Linked DNA regions of Homo sapiens. The protein of the gene in region 2 interacts with the protein of the main gene of each other region in a pairwise test. Each region holds a gene or a part of one and is shown on either strand. Other genes may lie near its edges.

Region 1 (7,080 bases), on a different chromosome or scaffold from region 2:
ATGAGCACATACAATTCTAGTTTCAATCAAATAAAACCTCTTGTGTTGACAAGACAAAATTAAAACCTTCAGTTTTCATTTCAGTTGTGCTAAAAATGAACCAGGTAGTGTCACTATAGTTAATTTTCTATGAGTCTTTCTTGCTCCAAAGACAACTTGGTTATCAGAAAGTGTTTGTGTGGAGCAAGTGGCATCTGTTGCCTATTTGTCAGGAGCAGAAGTCTGAGCACTTCTGTCCACTGCATCTTGTTTCAAAGTCGCCAAGGAAAACAATGCAGTGAAACACTGGGTGGAACACACATTACTCACATACAGAAGAGACAGAGCAAGATCAGCTTCCCTAGTGGACTTCAGTCTCCCATGACCAGAGGGTCCCTCTTGGCAGCTGACACAGGGCAGGTGGCCTGCAAACACTCCTCTTGTGCTGAAGGACCCCCATCCCCTCCCCCACAGGAGACAGAGCAGTGGGGTTGGTCAGATGCCATATGATGCACACACTTAAGCAGGGCAAAGGACTACACATTGACTCTGAAACAGAGGAAGATATTACTATACGGGGTGGTAAGTTCAGCACAGGCTCTGTGGACTCCTAGTCTCTTCAAAAGAAGTGTTCCAGGCCCAAGGCCCACTCTCAAACAACTGAGTAGGAGTTAAAAGACTGTATGTATGAGATTCCGTTTCCCAACAGTTTGGCTCTTTCACAAGGAAGAAATCACAAGAGTCACAGAATTGAAAATGAGTTAGAAAATACACAGTTATCTTGAAAGTTTTATCCATAGGGAAGCAGCATAATGAAGAATAAGAACTTAAGATTTGGAATCCATGTTTTATTTCTTATCAATGGGCAACTGGGGAATTTTTAAAACTTCTCTGAACTTTAGTTTTCTTGTATGTAAAATGGAGCTAATACAATCAGCTTCCAACTTGTAATATGTTTACTGAGGTTAACACATAAAATCTCGGCCAGGCACGGTGGCTCACCCCTGTAATCCCAGCAGTTTGGGAGGCTGAGGTAGGCAGATCATGAGGTCAGGAGATTGAGACCATCATGGCTAACACAGTGAAACTCCGTCTCTACTAAAAATGCAAAAAATTAGCTAGGCATGGTGGCAGGTACCTGTAGTCCCAGCTACTCGGGAGGCTGAGGCAGGAGAATCTCTTGAGCCCAGGAGGCAGAGGTTGCATTGAGCCGAGATCGCACCACTGCACTCCAGCCTGGGTGACAGAGGGAGATTTTGTCTCAAAAAATATATAAATAAAATTTTTTAAAAATAAAACTCTACACCACCTGTCCTAGCACAGAGGTATTAAGTGCTCACTATAGAGTCAAACTTACAGGGAAATATGGGTGATGTAAGTGCTATTTTGAATTTTCTTTATAACTAAAAGAAGAAAATTAGCAAATAATGTTTCCAGACAGTTCTATTTAATACTTTATGTATTTGAGTAACTGACTAAAAAGCAAATGTTCATCAGGTTTTTTTGGGTTGCACAAAAGGAAAATATAAGTTTTGTTTGCCAAATTCATTTGGATGTGAAGCCAACTTCATCAAACTTTAAAATTCTAAGTCTTTGTGACCTAAGGTTCTCAAAAGAGCAGCTAGAATCAATACTGTTCTTGGATTAATGGCTCAAAGAAGTCATTATGTTTTGTTTCTTGATGCTGTAGATTTAACATCATATTGGTAGAGATGTGTAACTTCTTACATGGATTAGACATCAAGAAGCCAATGTGTACATATAAACTAAAAACTGAAAATGAATACATTCAGATATTAAATTATAAAACTGCATAACAAATACAAATTTGTTAATTTTCCACAAGGACTAAAACAACGCTATTAATAACGAGTAGTCTTTTTCATCACTCTCAAAACATCTTCCTCGTTTATTTCTCCATCTCTATCATGATCAGCTTCATCAAGCATTTCCTGTAAAACAAAATGTAAATATATGAAATACATTTAAAATGACATAAATGAAGTCAAACACATATTCAAAACCAAATTTTATTTTAAATGCATAAGTGCAACTAAAGTTAGAATTATAATCCTAAATTATCACATAAGTTATAATTACATATAAATTATAATTATAAAAATAAGCAAAATCTACCTGAAGTTCATCATGTTAAATTTTCCCCTGGTTTCTTAGCAAACCTCTTGATACCGGTTAGTATTATACTTCCAGTATCATCATCATCAAATAATTTGAAAGTCTTCAATATTTCTTCTTTTTCATCTTTTTTACTCTTTTAAAAAAGAAGCAACTATCCAGTCTTTCATTTATTTATTTTATCAAGCTGGACTTAATTAGATCTTTGGGGTCTAAAGCAGCAATGTGCCAAGTAGCTGTGTTCTGATTTTATTTATTGGTCTTTTAACAATTATGTACTCACACCTGCCCTCAAGGTGCTTAAAGGTAGAGCTTGCTAAGGTGGAGAAGGCACAGGGTGGTCCAGAATGCATCTCTTATTAAACCTCATAATTCAGATCCGTTACCAAAAATGTAAGCTTCAAAATGGAAGGTTGTATCTTTCAATGCTCCTTAGAATAGTGCCTGGCAAAAATAGGCATTCAATATATGTTGCTGAATTAAAGGCTTCCAAATTCTGGCCCCATTCTCTCTATCCTGCAATATAGCCTCATTATTTCCTGACAAAAACCTCTTCTCCACATCATAGTCTTCTCATTACTACCCTGAAAACATATTTAATCTTGCTCTTCCTATCTCCCATCCTTAAAAACCTAGTTCTAATTGCTTCTCTATAAAACTTCTGATTGCTCCAGCCCTAAAATGTAGCAGGTTATTGCTAGTATTTCTTTGAAAAATAAAATCATAACTATATCATTTTTATACTCATAATGGCAAAAAAAAATCTTCAAAACTAATGGTGCCAATTCCTTCTTTATCAACTTCAGCTACCATTTTTTAAATTTCTTCTTTCTTTGGTTCAAATCCTAAGGCCCACACTGCAATCTGAAATAGGAAGAAAAGGAATTATAATATGCCATGATTTCTTTCTAAGCTTTTTAACTCCCTATTAAGAGCTTCTCTCTTTTCTATTATGGACTGAGCATAAACAGAAAATTAGGTCAGCAGGCCTGTGTTTCAGTCCTACTGTGCCATCATGTACATCACTGTTACACCCTGGGCTTTTGCCTACTCATTTATAAAACACAATTAAAATGCTTAACAAGATATCGTTTTGCTAATGCAGGGCAGGCATATGCACTGAAGAGACTTTATATTAAGCTTTCAGAAGACTACTTTTAAAGAAAGCCTTAAAGATTGCCACAAATAATATGGTTTTTAAAATGATTTAGAATTAGAAATAATTTCAGAACCTTCTTTTACATCGATGGTTCCAGACCCATCAATATCAAATAAATTAAAGGCGTCTTTAATTTCTTGCTTTTGGGATTCATTCAGTTCAATTTTTGCTGCTCTTTTCTTCCATTGGTCTGAACTTGTATGGTAGTTAGATGCCTGTAATACACACACATATGGGTGAAAGATAAATTATATAACTGGAATAGTTAGCAGAACCAGAATAATTGATGATAAACTATATTAAAGTACCTATTTCCTACTATAAAATGAATCTCAACAGGAGTAAGGAAGGAGTGCAGTTGCTGCCAGGGGCAGCCTTCCTTGCTCTGGCGGAAAAACTTCGGCCCCGGCCCCAGCAGAAGGTTACAGCTTCACACTCACCAGGTCCCCAGCCGGCAGCCGGCGCTCTCAGCCGGGACCTCCCGGCGTCACCTCCCGCAGCCCCGCCCAACCCAAGTCTTCACAGCTCACTGGCGGTTGCTAAGGCCGCTCTCACCGACCTCTCTCAGCCCCGCCCACCCAGCCTGAGTTATTGACATCCAGTTCATCCAATGGACAGAAAAAAAGGCCTTTAAACCAGCCCTTTCTCTCTACTCCCTACCAATAGCGTGACGTCCCCGCCTTTCGCAGCCCGGCGTTAAGCGGAACTTCTCTCTCCAGCTGTGTCTCTTAGCAACTAAGCCCCCGGCTCCTCCAGAAGCCCCTCTTCGCACATGCGCAAACTGCGGACGGGGAACTGGGCTCCCTAGCCCTGGCGTTTTTGGTGTTGCTGTCCCAGCCAGAATCGCGTCTGGCCGGTGGGAAGCCGGGAACTCCAGCCCCCTGTAGGAGAGGAGAAAGGAGCGAGGTTAGTAGTGAGGTGCTTCCGCTGACTGCTAAGCTAAGTCTTTCCTGAAGACGTGGGAGCCCGTGTGTTTGATTTTTCTGTCCTCTTCGGGCCAGGGAAAGAATGAGAATCTAGGGCCTGGAGGTCCTGGGGTGAATTGGTCCAGCATGTGGCTAGGAGTACTAGAGGAAGAGGGGACTGCCCTTTCTTTTTGCCGCTAGACTTTCCTCATTTTCTACAGTGCCTGGAGCTGGGCCTTCAGCCATTTACCTCCTCCCTGTTTTGGGCAGGGATTCTGGCATGGTAGACACCAGAATTCTGTATAGCAGTGGCATGGGGTAACAGTGTCGTTGGAGGGACGTGGGTATTGGGATAAGCATGGGTCTTGGGATGTATTTAAAGCTTCACTACATACATAGATAAACGTTTTTACATGTTTCGTGTAGCATTTGTTTACGAGGTAGGACTTTGGCCCCACCCATAATTACTATCGGACCCCGCCCTCCAACCCCAACACACACACACACACACACACACACACACACACACACACACACACACATCCAGCCATTTCCTTGGCCCAGTCCTAAGATTTGGCCAGTTGTCAACGATATCAACTTGATCTGCACTTCAGAGTCAGACACAGGTAGTCTGATTATCCAGTTGATTCAGTAACGGCCTAGATTTAGATACTTGTGAAACTTTTGTAAACCAACTCAATCTCTTGTCCAGAGGGCCAGATTTACTGCTTCTGCCCGTTCTGAATTTGGCCAGGAATCAGCTTAAAGGACAGGGGAGAAAGACTGAGGTAGGATGGACCACTGACTTCCTGGTGGGAATGAAGGAATGAGAGAATCTTAAAACTTCTAACCTTTAATTGCTCACACATGCGGACCCCTTTTATGCCTCCTACAATGTCTTCTCTAGAGGAAATATTTTCTAAAAATTATACTGGATTCTTCAAAAATGGATTCAGGAAGAATACTAACTTTAGTCTTTTTTTTTTTTTTTTTTTTTTTGTCTCACTTATCTTCCTGAAGGCAGGAGAGGAAAACAAGTGCAAAGTGCATTCTTGAAGCACTCTGTCAAATCACTTTTCATGCTTCATTGAGTAGAAACATGGCACATTTTCCAAAGCCATCAGCCTGTCTTGTTCATATTATATCCCAGACAGACACGCAAGTATTGTAATCATTGATAAAAATCTCATTAGGCTTCTGGAAAATAGGTAAGTTTATCCTCATATTGCAGGTGATTTTTCCATATAAAGTTACCCAGTGAAAATTAAAATGGCACAAATCCAAGATAATTTTTGAGTTAAGTAAAATGTGGTCACTTTAATATATGATTTTTCACGTCATTTATCTCACTTGGAAAGTTGCTCTTGATCAGTTTCAAGGTCATACACTTTTTTTTTTTTGAGACCGAGTCCTGCTCTGTCGCCCAGGCTGGAGTGCAGTGGCTCAATCCCGGCTCACTGCAAGCTCCACCTCCCGGGTTCTCGCCGTTCTTCTGCCTCAGCCTCCCGAATAGCTGGGAGTACAGGCGCCCGCCACCGCGCCCGGCTAATTTTTTTGTATTTTTAGTAGAGACGGAGTTTCACCGTATTAGCCAGGATGGTCTCCATCTCCTGACTTCATGATCCGCTCGCCTCGGCCTCTCAAAGTGCTGGGATTACAGGCGTGAGCAACTGCGCCCGGCCATATACTTCATTTTTAATACTAATATTAAAAGGATTTCTTAGACCCAGAAATGAATAGTGACCAAGTATATACTCAACCCAATCCTAATTTCGAGGATCTCTTGGATCATGTTTGATCTAATGACAATTAAATGGCGGAGTAGTATATTAACCTATTTTTATATCACTATGATTTAGGCTTTTATATTTGGAATATTTACTGCTAGTTAAAATGTTTTTTTAATTGTAGGCTCAGATTCCAACTCCCAGATCTTGAATAGGATGTAATTAGTTTTGAAAACTAGCTATTAACGAATCTAACTGCACTTTAGAACATTAATCATCATCATTATCCAGGAAAACATTAAACACATAGGCACTCTTAAATCTCCCAAATGTATTTAATGTTTTCTATATGTCATGCACTATGCCAACTACTGGGTGAGTTCGAAAGAAATAAAAATAGAATATAAAAGATGAATAACTAAGGAATCTACAGATTAGTGGGGGAGCTAGACACAAACATAATACAATGTTTTTAATACAGGGTATTTTTAATCTGCTTTGGTAGATGGGTATAGAAAGTGCGTTGGGAGCACAGAAAGGAGGGACAACTCTACCCCAGGGCATTAGAGAAGTCCTGATAGGAAATGAGGCATTTGCGTTGGGTCATGAAAGATCTATAGCATCTATGGAGATGAAGAAAATATAGACTATTCAAATCAGTATAGCTTAGTGAAAATAAATATGTTCTAGCGTGACAAGATCATGAGGTTTATAAGGAAAGGTGGGAGAAGAGTCATAAATTAGGTTGAGGTTAGATTATAAGGCACATATATCAAGCCAAGGAGTAAAGACTTTCTTTTTTAAGATAAATAGATGTTTTTTGGCAGTGGAGTAATCTGTTTAGGTTTGTGCTTTTTCAGTGCTAATTCTGACCACCATATGAAGGAGGAACTCTCATTAGAAGCAATTAAAGGGCCTCAACTAAGGCGGTGCCAAATAGGAATCAAGTCAACTCCAAGGATGGTTAAAACTTATATTCATGTTGGAGAAATACTAAAAGTACCGTCTGTTTTCTCTTGCTTCAGTTTTGTACTTAAATTTGGGGGAACAAATATGGTGAAAAAAATTCATTCACTTACCAAATATTTATAGAGTACTTGCTGTGTGTCAGGCAATATTGTAGGTACTCGGGATATACATCATTGACTAAAATTGCCTTCCTGGAAATTACATT
Region 2 (7,004 bases):
TGTTACTCTTTACATACTGTTTATTTTTGTTAGTTTTTAATTGAAGATGGACTGTTGAAATTGTATAGGACCAGTGTCTTATTAATATGATTAATATATTTAGAAGAGCCACGTGAAACCCATGACAAAATGAATGTGAATATTCTTTCTAAAAATTTAGAAAATGTTATCTTTTTGCATTTATTATGTAAAACTGTTTTACAGTATCAAAATTTTTCACTTAAAGAAAAAAAATGCCATGAAACATTTGAACTGATGAGCCACAGAACTTCAGTTGAAATTTTTTTCACTTTTTAGCATGCTAAATATACATCTGAGTTTAAATGTTCTGTTTAATGGCCATTCATAAATTCAAGCACTACCACTGGTCAGTTTTGTGTGATAGAATAAAAATATGTTACCTGCAGTGTAAGTACAGCACACTGTCAAATTCTTTTCCTTAAGGTGCACAGTAAATGTACAGATAGTTATAGGCCACTGTTTTGTAATGTAGTACATTTCTAATCTATTATTCCTAACCTATTATAACTGTTTGCAGAAAGAAAAGAATTTTTCTAATAATCTGTAAAATTATGCTAACTTCTACAAGTAGGCTTCTAAATAAAATTTTTAAAAAGAGCAAACGGTGATCAAGTGACTTTTAATACAATATGATGACTAAATTATTGCTAATTTGTTTTAATCCCCCCTTTTGTGGGGATAGGGATAGCTGCAAAGGATGGCAAAGGGCTTGAAAGGGATTCAACAGTGAGAATCCCTGAAGTATGCTTTGCTTGGTGCCTTATATTCATTCTTCTCGAATCCTCTATGAGAACCTTAGGTGGACGTTAGCCAGATTTTATACATGAAGATGCTGAGGCTCAGAGAGGTTGAAAGTCTCCAAAAGCTGCGGAGTAAGAGTGGTAGCCGACTCTTACTTTAAGAGTAAAAGCACAAGTTTGAATCTGTATCTCCGTGGTACACTTAAATAGAACTCTAATAGCACTTCACTTCTAAATGTCAGGAATATAATCCACTGCTTGAATCTATATTGAGTAATGTAACCCCTTTGTTATGAGTAGCACCACAAAAAAACCCTACTATTAAACATATACGAAATCCATATGAAAGGGTTTTTTTTTCCCCCCTCAGATCACCTATTAGTCCATACTGAGTCAACATCAGATGAGTTCCGAGACATCATTCCTCTCTGGTTTTCCCCCACCCTCCTTTCTTCCCATTCTTGCTCTCTGCTCAGGGTCCAGTTGCTTCTGGCTGTCATTTGGTTTGGTTTTATTAATTGGGGAGAAAAAGATGGGAGGGCCTGCCGGTTCCTCCTATCTTGTTCATAGCAATAAGGATTAAGGAAAACGGCCCCTCATTGTCCAACCTCGTGAAACATCTACAAGATCATTTTCTTGCTAATACTGGCATGCTTCGACTCTAGATGATGTATGTTGTGCCATTATGCTAGTTGAATCTTCTGCATCTCACAAAATATCACTTGTGGGAATAATAAACCAGGAGAGTGGTGACCTACCACAGTAATTTGGTGGGTGCGTCAGAGGCATCTGAACCAGAGCAACTCCAGTAATTTGGTGGGTGCGTCAGAGGCATCTGAACCAGAGCAACTCCATCTTGAATAGGAGCTGGGTAAAATGAGGCTAAGATCTAGGCTGCATTCCCAGATGATTAAGGCATTCTAAGTCACAGGATGAGATAGGAGGTTGGCACAAGATACAGGTCATAAAGACCTTGCTGATAAAACAGGTTGCAGTAAAGAAGCCAGCCAAAACCCACCAAAACCAAGATGGCCACGAGAGTGACCTCTGGTTGTCCTCACTGCTATACTCCCACCAGCACCAAAGACAGTTTACAAATGCCATGGCAATGTCAGGAAGTTACCCTATATGGCCTAAAGAGGGGAGGCATAAATAATCCACTCCTTGTTTAGCATATCATCAAGAAATAACCATAAAAATCGGCAACCAGCAGCCCTTGGGGCTGCTTTGCCTATGGAGTAACCATTCTTTTATTCCTCTTTCTTAATAAACTTGCTTTCACTTTATGGACTCGTCCTGAATTCTTTCTTGCATGAGATCCAAGAACCCTCTCTTGGGGTCTGGATTGGGACCCTTTTCCTCTAACAGGTGTAATATAAATATCTGTTGAGTGCTAACTATGCCAGGCACTATGCAAAGTGTTTAGTGAACATTCTCCACCTACTCAAAACCTCTTGAGATTTTTATTTTGTATATGTTATCTCCACTGGTTTTTTTGGCGGGGATTGTTTTGTTTTGAGACAAGGTCTCGCTCTGTCGCCCAGGCTGGAGTGCAGTGGTGCAATCTTGGCTCACTGCAACCTCCCTTCCCGAGTTCAAATTATTCTCATACCTCAGCCTCCAGAGTAGCTGGGATTACAAGCATGCACCACCATGCCCAGCTAATTTTTGTATTTTTAGTAGAGACGGGATTTTGCTATGTTGGCCATGCTGGTCTTGAACTCTCGGCCTCCTGTGATCTCCCACCTCGGCCTCCCAAAGTCCTGGAATTACAGCCATGAGCCACTGCGGCAGGCCCATTGTTTTTAAAGATGAGAAAAGCAGAGATCAAAGAGGTTACTTGGTGAATGCCACAGGTAAGGAAATGACAGAGCAAATCCAGGTCTGAATCCAAAGCCCATGCTCTCAAGTGCCTGTGTTTTAGGCCAGGCAAGGTGGCTCATGCCTGTAATCCTAAAACTTTGGAAGGCCAAGTTGGGAGGATCACTTGAGGCCAGGAATTCAAGATCAGCCTGGGCAACACAGGGAGACCCTGTCTCTACTAAAAGAGAAAATAACCAGGCGTAGTGAGGCACAAAGCGACTTGAAGGCTAAGACAGGAGGATCACGAGCTCAGGAATGCGGAGCTGCAGTAAGCTATGATCTCGCCACTGCACTCCAGCCTGGGCGGCAGAGTGAAACTTCATCTCTTAAAAAACAAAAAAAATGTTATAAGAGACAGTATTTTCTGTCTTTGGGTTATATACAATAATCCTTGGCCATGTGTTTTAAAGCATACTGTTGATCACCGACGTGATTAATGGATTTAAATCTGCACAGCGGCTCATGCCTGTAATCCCAACACTCTGAAAGGCCGTGGCAGGTGGATCATTCAGGTCATGAGTTCGAGACCAGCCTGGTCAACATGGTGACATCCCCATCTCTACTAAAAATACAAATATTGGCGGGGCACAGTGGCGTATGCCTGTAATCCCAGCTACTTGAGAGGCTGAGGCACGGGAATCGCTTGAGCCCGGGAGGCGGAGGTTGCAGTCAGCCGAGATTGCGCCACTGCACTCCAGCCTGGGCGACAGAGCGGGAGTCCATCTCAAAAAATAGAGACTTCGCATCATTTCTGCTTAATATATTTGTGGTGTCTAGAGTTTTATTGTGATACCTGAGTCTAGGAAATGTGGTAAAGCCTCTGCAGCAGACATAAAGCCTGCAATTCATGGCTGTGGCCAGGCTCTCCTCACCTGTCCTGCATCTACAAATTATTTCCGTTATGGTAAGGAGAGCAACTCGTGGGGAATGTGGACAGGAACATGCGTGAATCCAAGGCAGAGGTTTTGCCCCGGAAAAAGCAGCTTCTGGCAGGGGATGAAAGCCAGCAGAGTTCCAACCGGGGTGCCCTCTCCTTCACGCAGGCCCCACTACCGTGTTGACTTAGGAAGAAAGTTTCTCGGGAGACTAAGGGATTTGGGGGCAGCGGACGCCACTGGAGGGAGATGAATTCACCTAGGGAGCCGGGGAGGGGCTTAGGGTTGCCGCTCCAGGCACAGCTGCTGGAAATCCTAGTCTGTTTTTTCTGCCTTCGCGTACAACGGGCCAGCTCACCCCACCTGGCAAAGCTGCAGGGCTTTTCCACCAGGCGGACAGAAGGGCAGCCCTCTCGCCCAACCAAGAAGCCGTGCTACCCCGGCTTCGACTCCTGGCTTCCGGGTTTTCTCCCCGCCTATTCCGTTTCCGGCCGTTCCCACCCCTGTTTTCGGTCGGCCCGGGTGTTCTGCAAGCTGGTCAAAAAGGGGAAGCGGCCCAGATATGTTAAGTTCTATGGCCGCTGCAGGGTCTGTGAAGGCGGCGTTGCAGGTGGCCGAGGTGCTGGAAGCCATCGTGAGCTGCTGCGTGGGGCCCGAGGGACGGCAAGTTTTGTGTACGAAGCCCACTGGCGAGGTGCTTCTCAGCCGGAATGGAGGCCGCCTCCTGGAGGCGCTACACTTAGAGCATCCCATAGCCAGGTACCCGCGTCCCACACGCTAACCCGTAGCCGGGCACCCCAGGCAGCCTCTGTGGAGCTCTTGTCCCATCCTGAGGCGATGCGTACTTAGAAAGACTGACCTCGGGTGAAACCGCTGTATGCTCGGAATTAGAGCCCTGCCCAAGGGAACACTCCTGCACCCCAAATCTTACCAATTCTCAAGACCACTTCTCCCCACTCCACCCAACGGTGGAATCTTGGAATAGAGCAGAGTTTTTTCCAAGAAAGGAAAAAACTAAGGATGTATCCAAGGAACAATATTCTCATTTTATGCTTATGGCTGTGTAAACATGGTTTTAAGATGTGGGAAGCCAGCCTTCTGAAAATGAGTTGCTTTATTTCTTTTTTGTACAGGATGATAGTGGACTGTGTTTCCAGTCATCTCAAAAAAACAGGAGATGGTGCAAAAACATTTATTATCTTTCTTTGCCATTTGCTTAGAGGACTTCATGCAATCACAGACAGAGAAAAGGATCCTTTGATGTGTGAAAACATTCAAACCCATGGAAGGCATTGGAAAAATTGTTCTCGGTGGAAATTTATTTCCCAGGCTCTCCTAACGTTTCAGACACAAATATTAGACGGTATTATGGACCAGTACCTAAGTAGACACTTTTTGTCTATCTTTTCGTCTGCTAAAGAGAGAACATTGTGTAGGAGCTCTTTAGAGTTGCTCTTAGAAGCATACTTTTGTGGAAGAGTGGGAAGAAATAATCATAAATTTATTTCACAGTTGATGTGTGACTACTTTTTCAAGTGTATGACTTGTAAAAGTGGGATTGGTGTATTTGAGTTAGTGGATGACCATTTTGTAGAGTTGAATGTTGGTGTCACTGGCCTTCCTGTTTCAGATTCCAGGATCATAGCTGGTCTTGTGCTTCAGAAAGATTTTTCTGTGTACCGCCCAGCAGATGGTGACATGCGAATGGTGATAGTAACAGAAACCATTCAGCCTCTTTTTTCCACTTCTGGATCAGAGTTTATTCTAAATTCAGAAGCACAGTTTCAGACATCTCAATTTTGGATTATGGAAAAGACAAAAGCAATAATGAAACATCTACATAGTCAGAATGTAAAATTGCTCATATCTAGTGTGAAACAACCAGATTTAGTTAGTTATTATGCAGGGGTGAATGGCATATCAGTGGTTGAGTGTTTATCATCAGAAGAAGTTTCTCTTATCCGGAGGATCATTGGTCTTTCTCCATTTGTACCACCACAGGCCTTTTCGCAGTGTGAAATACCTAACACTGCTTTGGTGAAATTTTGTAAACCTCTTATCCTTAGATCCAAAAGATATGTTCATCTAGGCTTGATAAGCACATGTGCATTTATACCACACTCTATAGTTCTTTGTGGACCAGTGCATGGTCTCATTGAACAACATGAGGATGCTTTACATGGAGCACTTAAAATGCTTCGGCAATTATTTAAAGACCTTGATCTAAATTACATGACACAAACCAATGACCAAAATGGCACTTCAAGTCTTTTTATTTATAAGAACAGTGGAGAAAGTTATCAAGCACCAGATCCTGGTAATGGCTCAATACAAAGGCCTTATCAGGACACAGTTGCAGAGAACAAAGATGCATTGGAAAAAACTCAAACATATTTAAAAGTACATTCTAATTTGGTAATTCCAGATGTAGAATTAGAAACATATATTCCGTATTCAACCCCCACACTGACACCAACAGATACATTCCAAACAGTTGAAACGCTGACATGTTTGTCTTTGGAAAGAAACAGGCTAACTGATTATTATGAACCATTACTCAAGAACAATTCCACTGCTTATTCAACAAGGGGAAATAGAATAGAAATTTCTTACGAAAATTTACAGGTCACAAATATTACTAGAAAGGGAAGCATGTTACCAGTGAGCTGTAAGTTACCGAATATGGGTACTTCCCAGAGTTACCTTTCCTCATCTATGCCAGCTGGTTGTGTTTTGCCAGTAGGTGGTAATTTTGAGATCTTGTTACATTACTATCTTCTCAATTATGCCAAAAAATGCCATCAATCAGAAGAAACCATGGTTAGTATGATAATAGCTAATGCACTTTTAGGCATTCCCAAAGTCCTTTATAAATCTAAAACAGGAAAGTACAGCTTTCCACATACATATATAAGAGCTGTCCATGCACTGCAAACCAATCAACCCTTGGTAAGCAGTCAGACAGGTTTGGAATCAGTAATGGGTAAATACCAGCTACTAACTTCAGTTCTTCAGTGTTTGACAAAAATATTAACCATTGACATGGTAATCACTGTTAAGAGACACCCTCAGAAAGTTCACAATCAAGATTCAGAAGATGAACTATAACATCAGAAGTTTTTAATTAACCAAACTTTTCATCTAACTCAAGCCAAGTAAAGCAGTCATGTGACCACTGGTTCTAAAGTCAGTTCAGTCTACTTAGGAAAATAGCGTAACTTTAAAAGTCTTTAGAAGAAGCACACTAAGGTCACCAGACCAGATACAAATATTAAATTACTTTATGGAACAAATCTAGAGGGGAAGCCAAGATTTGGCTAAGTGTGTCTGTTTTTTCCCTATTTTATGCCTCTGTGTCTCAGCTCTGTGTTAGCCTATGTGTTTAGGGGAGGGTTTTTCTTTATAGCTCCTTTTTACTCTCCTGTATCTTTTTCACTCCAGCCCTCCTTCATCGTTACATGTTTAGTTCATAGAATCATTTAATCTCTGATTTGGGTGGGCTTAT
Region 3 (7,115 bases), on a different chromosome or scaffold from region 2:
GACAGTTATATGGATAGTAGTGTGAGAAAGATAGAGAGTTTCTCAGTAACAGTCTCTTCAAGTGGTTTCTTAAATGTTTTTACTAGAGTGGCAAAGATGGGATAGAAAAGTTCTTTACTCAATTTTTGAAAATTGATTGTCTGAATCCCCACATTTGTAAGGTTTTATAGGAAAACAAAAGTTATAACTTGAAGATATTCAGTAAGGAAACTGACCACTTAACATTAGTCACCACATATCCTTTCCTGCTTAATGTTGCCATGTATCCCCACTCATGTCAACAATAGAGATTGCTAAATAGTACTTTGGCCAATATAATGCAAATATAATACAGATTGGTTTCAAAATGGAATTTAAAATTTTGAAAAACATAGAGAATTTCATGAAATTGATAAAAATAGTAAGAGGACTATTCAATCATATGCAGAGCCACAAAGTGAGGCCACTTAATAACTGAAGAATAGAAAATCAGGGAGGATTATTATAGGATAAGCTCTTCAGAGAATAATTTTAATATAAAATTTTTTAATAGAACTTGGAGGTAGAGGAATACATGAAACATTCAAATAAAATTACCCTCTTTATGATAAATATGGTAATAACAACCTAGAAGTGAAAAATATATCACACTTAAATATAATTTTTGTCAAGACATTTTAGCTCACCCAAGTGAAAACTCAGTTCAGTCTAAGAATTAGAATATAGTTATGACTATTGACTAAATTTTGTTAAATGTAATATGAAATAAACTTGTTTTCATTTCTTTTTTCAAGATAAAGTTCTAATGAAATCTTTTTTTTTCTGCTGTTTATCATTTAGTTTGAGGTAGAATCACTTAAAATAGACTTTTTCAGGCAATTTAGTGTGGTAGTAAGAAAGCTAACTCGAGCAAAAAACTGAGTTGCAGTCTAATCTACTACTTAATACTTAGGTGCCATTAGGCAAGTTATTTTACATTTTATTATTCACCTGTAAAAGGAATAATAATGGTCCTTATTTTATAGAGTTATGATGATTAATTGATCTAATACATAAAAATCACTTAAGATAGTGCTTGGCACATAGTACACAAAGAAGTCATTTTTTGATGTATTAATTGTCTTTGGATATAGACAGTTAAATTATCATTATCTTGTCTTTGTTTTCCATTTTTCTGAGCTCAGTTTTTATTGAGAAGCCCGAGGCCTTAACATCCTCATTTTCAGCTTTCAAAATCAAAAACAGTGTTATACCAAAAATACTAGGAATTAACTAGGAGAAAGTTTTAAAAACTGTGTTCTCTAAGTCTATAATAAAATGTTAGTAAACTGTATACATTTTTCTGTTTTTATCTCTGAAAAAAATTCAGTACCTGTGCTTATTTTTAAAAATTACTATTTTAATGTTCTCAGGCACATATCTGGCTCAGACCTCTTTCTCAGTGCAAGTTACATCTATAACCATTATTGTGACTGCAAAGACCAACATTATTACCTTTCTGGGGATAAAATCAATGATGTGATCTGCCTTCCAGTGGAAAGATTATCTCGTATCACACCTGTATTGGCCTGCCAGGACAGAGTGCTCAGAGTTTTACAGGTTGCTGTTATTTGTATTTTTCTAATTTTTTATATTATGTGAAAGAATATCAATGAACATTATGTACTTGAGATAAATTAGTGGTTACTGTTTTAAGGGCTTTTATAAACATGTGGAAACAATTTTTAAATAATTTGACATATTAATTTTTTTAACTTGAGTCAAATGTGTTGTTTTGTAAGTTTTTAAGAGAAGCATATTTGGAAGAAAAAGGATTTTTTTTGCCTCACCATACACAATTTCTGAGCTATTATCAGAATGGAGTACTTTGACTACAGAGAACCTTTACCTGCCTTTTTGTTTTGTTTTCTTCTTCCATCACCTTTATCTTCCCCAAAAATCAAATTAAAGGAAGAAATTGGGTTGGAGGGAGGATGTTATATAACTTGAGTTTATCCAGTGTTTATGGAAGTATATGGAATAAGCACTCAGTAAATATATGTTGGATAAGTAAATGAGTGATAGAGGGAAAATTCATTTTGATGTCCTTATATTTCTGGTAAAAACCACGATTGGCTAAAACAACTGCTTCAGGTCATTGTTATGAGTAATAATAGTTACCACTATATCTTCTTGAGAGTGACTTTCAATAAAATATATGCACACACACACACACACACACTCTATAGGATGCTTAAAATAATGTTTAAAGGTAAATAGCATGTAACAGTTAGATGAACTGTATCAGAAACAGGCTGATATAGTTGGTGCAGTTGATGAAAAAGTTGAGCTGTGAAGTCCATGCCACCACAGGCTATCTCACTCTTTGGAATTCCATAGTCAGATGGCCATTTCTTGGCATCAGCCCTTTTGTAAAAGGAAAAATCCAGTGAGTCTATGAGGTTTTTACCCCCCAGGGACAAAGTAATGTTAAAGGTTCATTTTAGGCCAGGCATGGTGGCTCACACCTGTAATTCCAGCACTTTTGGAGGCTGAGACGGGAAGATCATTTGAGGCCAGGAGTTTGAGACCAGCCTGGCCAACATGGTGAAACCCTGTCTCTACTAAAAATACAAAATTAGCTGGGTGCAGTAGCACACACCTGTAATCCCAGTTACTCAGGAGGCTGAAGCACAAGAATCACTCGAACCCAGGAGGCGGAGGTTGCGGTGAGCTGAAATTGCATCACTGCACTCCAGCCTGGGCAACAGAGGGAGACTCCATCTCAAAAAAAAAAAAAAAAGAAAAGAAAAAAGGTTCATTTTAGAGTTATGAATGATTAATTTCCCCCATAGCCTATGCTTTTAAATATGAATTGTTTTGAACAAGGCTTTTAACAGGAGCTGTTTAGCATTCAATTAGAAATTGACTGAATTCTAGGATTCTGCTTTGACAAGAGATCCATATGCTTATTATTTTTAAAATAATTACTAAAGATCTGTAGAAAATAAAGTTGAAGTCTTTCCCTCTGCACCGCATGCTTTTTTCTCACTCCCCGTCTATCTCTGTGAATAATCCATTACTCCAGAGGTTGCCTCTTTTTAACAGTTTTGTGTATATTCTTTTGTGTTTATATAGTTACGTGTAGATATCTGTAAATTTTAATATGATATTTTAAATAAAAGATAAAACAGGCTGGGCACAGCGGCTCAGGCCTATTACCCCAGCACTTTGGGAGGCCGAGGTTGGAGGATCACTTGACTCCAGGAATTCAAGACCAGCCTGGGCAACATAGCGAGACCCCCATCTCTTAAAAAAAATTTAGCTGGGCATGGTGGTGCATGCCAGTAGTCCCAGCTACTCAGGAAGCTGAGGTGGGAACATCATTTGAGCCCAGAAGGTCGAGGCTGCGGTAAGCTATGATCACACCACTGCACTGCACTCCAGCCTGGATGACAGAGTCAGATCCTGGCTCAAAAAAAAAAAAAAAGATAAAGCATATGGCTTTCTTACGTTTTCTAAATAAACATTAAACTTTTTTTAGTCCTGATGTGGTGGCTCACGCCTGTAATCCCAGCACTGTGGGAGGCTGAGGCAGATGGATCACCTGAGGTCAGGAGTTCAAGACCAGTCTGGCCAACATGGTGAAACTTTGTCTCTACTAAAAATACAAAACTTAGCCAGGCATGGTGGCCTGCACCTGTAATCCAGCTACTCGGGCAGCTGAGACAGGAGAATCACTTAAACCCGGAAGGTGGAGGTTGCAGCGAGCTGAGGTCACAGCATTGCATTTCAGCCTGGGCAACAAAGCAAGATTCCATCTCAAAAAAAAAAAAACATTAAAACAAAAATGTCATACCATATTAACTATAATTTTGCAAATTGTGTTTTCTTTTTTTTTTGAGATGGAGTCTTGCTCTGTCGCCCAGGCTGGAGTAGTGGTGCAATCTTGGCTCACTGCGACCTCTGCTTCCCGGGTTCAAGCAATTCTCCTCCTTTAGCCTCCTGAGTAGCTGGGATTACAGGCATGCACCACCACACCTGGCTAATTTTGTATTTTTAGTAGAGACGGTTTCACCATGTTGGTCAGGCTGGTCTTGAACTCCTGACCTGATGATCCACCCGTCTTGGCCTCCGGAAGTGCTGGGATTACAGGCATAAGCCACCACACCCCATTTTGCAAATTTTGTATTCATTGAATTATAGATCATGGATATTTTTTCCATGTGAGTATAAGTACTTCTAACTCATTCTTTAACAGCATCACAAATACTGTGCCCAAAATGACAAGCATTACAAGTAGCAAAATTGAAAAACTGATAAATATATAAGGACCTAACTTGTTTTTTTATCTAAGTAGCAGGTCATTCAGCCTCTGACTGGAGCAGATTTTGGGAATACCCAAAGGCAAGGCCAAAATTTTCCTTAGGAAGTAACTTTGTGTCTGTTAAAATATTTGGATGTATTCCAAGTTAAAGACTTCCAGTTAACCTAGAGAGGGCAGAGGGAATAATTTGTTCCTAGAGACTTGATAGGAAAATCTGCCAGTGTCAAGTTTTCAGGCAAACAATGTATTTAAAATGTATTAAAGGTAGAGAATATTTTAAATGTTTTCTTCTTGGTCTTTACATTTTATATATATATATATACACACATATATATGTACATATACATATACACATGTACATGTACACATATATACATATATACACATACATGTATGTACATATATGTACATATACATATATACACATACATGTGCATATATGTATACATATGTGTATATATGTATACATGTGTGTACATATCTGTATATATACGTATATATGTATACATTTATACGTATATATGTGTATATATGTTGTTTTCAAATCAGTTGATATATGCAAAATTGCTAACAAATGCAAGTTGTATTCGTAACCTAATTTTTAAAGCAATTTTATTCTAGGTGTTACTAAGAGTACTGTATTTGAATATTGATGTTATTCATGAATGCCTCTATTATTTTCAGTTTGTATTCTGTTTCAGTTTTTAAATACTTCTCCTTCAGGGATCTGATGTGATGTATGCAGTTGAAGTTCCTGGACCCCCTACTGTCTTAGCACTACACAATGGAAATGGCGGTAATCAGGATTTTATTTTTCACAAATCAACTATGTGTTTTAATAGTAAGTGAAAATGGGAAATTGTAGAAAGGACATAAACTAGAATTGAGACAGTTGTCTTTCTGGTAACTTGCCAGTAACTAACAGCACGAGTTATTGAACTTTTAATTCTCCGTTTTTTTCTTTTTTGGGGGGCTGGGGGGCAGGGTCTCACTCTGTCTCCCAGGCTGGCGTGCAGTGGTACAATCTCAGCTCACCACGGCCTCGACCTCCCAGGCTCAAGGGATCCTCCCACCTCAGCCTCCCTAGTACTACAGGCGCACACCACCATGCCCGGCTAGGTTTTTGGTATTTTTTATAGAGACAGGGTTTCGCCATGTTGCCCAGGTTAGTCTGGAACTCCTGGGCTCAAGGGATCCTCTCACCTCAGTCTCCCAAAGTGCTGGGATTACAGGCATGAGCCACGGCACCCAACCTAGTTTCTTCATCTTAAAATTATATAATGGGGAAATGTCTTATCTCTTATAGCTATAAAATTGTGTGAATATATAACCATTCTCAACAATTAAGTTTTATATCTTTTTATAGTACTTTTTAAAATGATATTTTTACATAACAACATTTTAATTTTAAAGAGATTACTAATTGTAGGATAAATATAATATGTTGACTTTAATTATAAGTAGGTGACTCTGGAGAAGACCTTTTGTTTGGGACATCAGACGGAAAACTTGCGCTTATACAGATTACTACATCCAAACCAGTACGCAAGTGGGAAATTCAAAATGAGAAAAAGAGAGGAGGTATGCTTTTCATGTAGTTCAGATTCTGAGGTGTCAATGATTATTAAGTATCTTAAATTATATAATTTATTCTATTTTATCTATTTATACTACATAGCAGACTTAGCAATTCACACCTTGATTTATCTACTATTTGTTTATTTGTCAGGTCTATTATACTATTGGCATAATTTTTTAAAAGTAAGAAATGCTGATAGTAATTTGGTATTGATACGTTTTTATAGGCTAATATCATTTTATGCTAAAATCCAATTTTAATTGGATTTTAATTGTCTGAGGTAATTTAGTTGTTTGAGGTACAGAATTAATTGGAATCTGGGAGTCTTTGTTATGAGGCAAAGAAGAAGTGCAGTGGGTCAGAGAATATTCCTGTTTTCTAAGGAATTTATACCTTTCTAAGGAGAATTTATAACTGATTAGGTAGATAGTGAGATGCCTATGTATATGTTCAGGATGTTCATATATTCATTTATTCCTTCAACAAATACTTATTAGGAGAGACAGAGTAAAAACAAATAAATACATAAGACAGCTTTACCTAGTCACCTGAAGAAAATAAAACAGGGCTGTGTATTAGAGAGTGATGGTAGAAGGAGGAGGGTCACTTTTAGACCACGTAGTCAAAGATAGCCTCTTAGAAGAGGTGAAATTTGAACTGAGATCTGATTGATAAGAAAAAGAGTTAGCAATATGAAGATTTGGGGAAAAAAATGTTTCAGGAAGAGGAAAAAGTAAGTGTGAAAGATTTGAGGTGGAGGTAGATTTGATTCATTTGAGGAACAGTAGGAAGGTCAGTCAGTTTGGCTAAATGCGTTAACATGGCAGGAGATGGAGTCAGAGAGGTAGAGTAGAGCCAAATTGTGTAAGCCTTGGAAAACAGTTTGAATTTTAATCTAGGTGCTGTAGGAAGTCATTAGAAAATTGTCAGTGGGAGTGTGACACTTAATTTACTAAGCCTAAACAAAACAAAGGACACTGGAGAATGGATTGGAGGGGGCGGGGGGCAACAGGTCAAAACTGGAAGCATGGAGACCAGTTAGAAGAGTTATTATAATTTATTCTAGTCTAGGCTAGCTTAGTCTAGGCTATCAGTAGCTGGAAACATAGACAATTTCAGTATATATTGTGGAGGTAGAGAAGATGGAATTTGCTAGCAGTTTTGATATGAGGGGTGGTGAGAAAAAGAAAGAAATCAGATGTGGCCCAGAATTTTTGTCTGAGCAGCTAGGTAGAATAATTTATGGAGATG

The links.
Region 1: the proteins of BBS10 (region 2) and BBS12 interact in binary tests that used the Homo sapiens proteins (3 or more experiments, as listed by UniProt).
Region 3: the proteins of BBS10 (region 2) and BBS7 interact in binary tests that used the Homo sapiens proteins (3 or more experiments, as listed by UniProt).

Annotation. Positions count from the first base shown.
Region 1 is NC_000004.12:122,728,705-122,735,784, forward strand, and holds the start of BBS12 (chaperonin-containing T-complex member BBS12), read left to right. Parts: upstream 1-3,999; 5' UTR 4,000-4,180; intron 4,181-5,199; exon of another isoform or gene 5,200-5,387; intron 5,388-7,080. UniProt on the Homo sapiens protein: Component of the chaperonin-containing T-complex (TRiC), a molecular chaperone complex that assists the folding of proteins upon ATP hydrolysis.
Region 2 is NC_000012.12:76,345,416-76,352,419, reverse strand, and holds the start of BBS10 (BBSome complex assembly protein BBS10), read left to right. Parts: upstream 1-4,004; 5' UTR 4,005-4,061; coding exon 4,062-4,258; intron 4,259-4,632; coding exon 4,633-6,607; 3' UTR 6,608-7,004. UniProt on the Homo sapiens protein: Probable molecular chaperone that assists the folding of proteins upon ATP hydrolysis. Plays a role in the assembly of BBSome, a complex involved in ciliogenesis regulating transports vesicles to the cilia. Involved in adipogenic differentiation.
Region 3 is NC_000004.12:121,853,455-121,860,569, reverse strand, and holds part of BBS7 (BBSome complex member BBS7), read left to right. Parts: intron 1-1,391; coding exon 1,392-1,578; intron 1,579-5,008; coding exon 5,009-5,081; coding exon of another isoform or gene 5,082-5,126; intron 5,127-5,746; coding exon of another isoform or gene 5,747-5,749; coding exon 5,750-5,866; intron 5,867-7,115.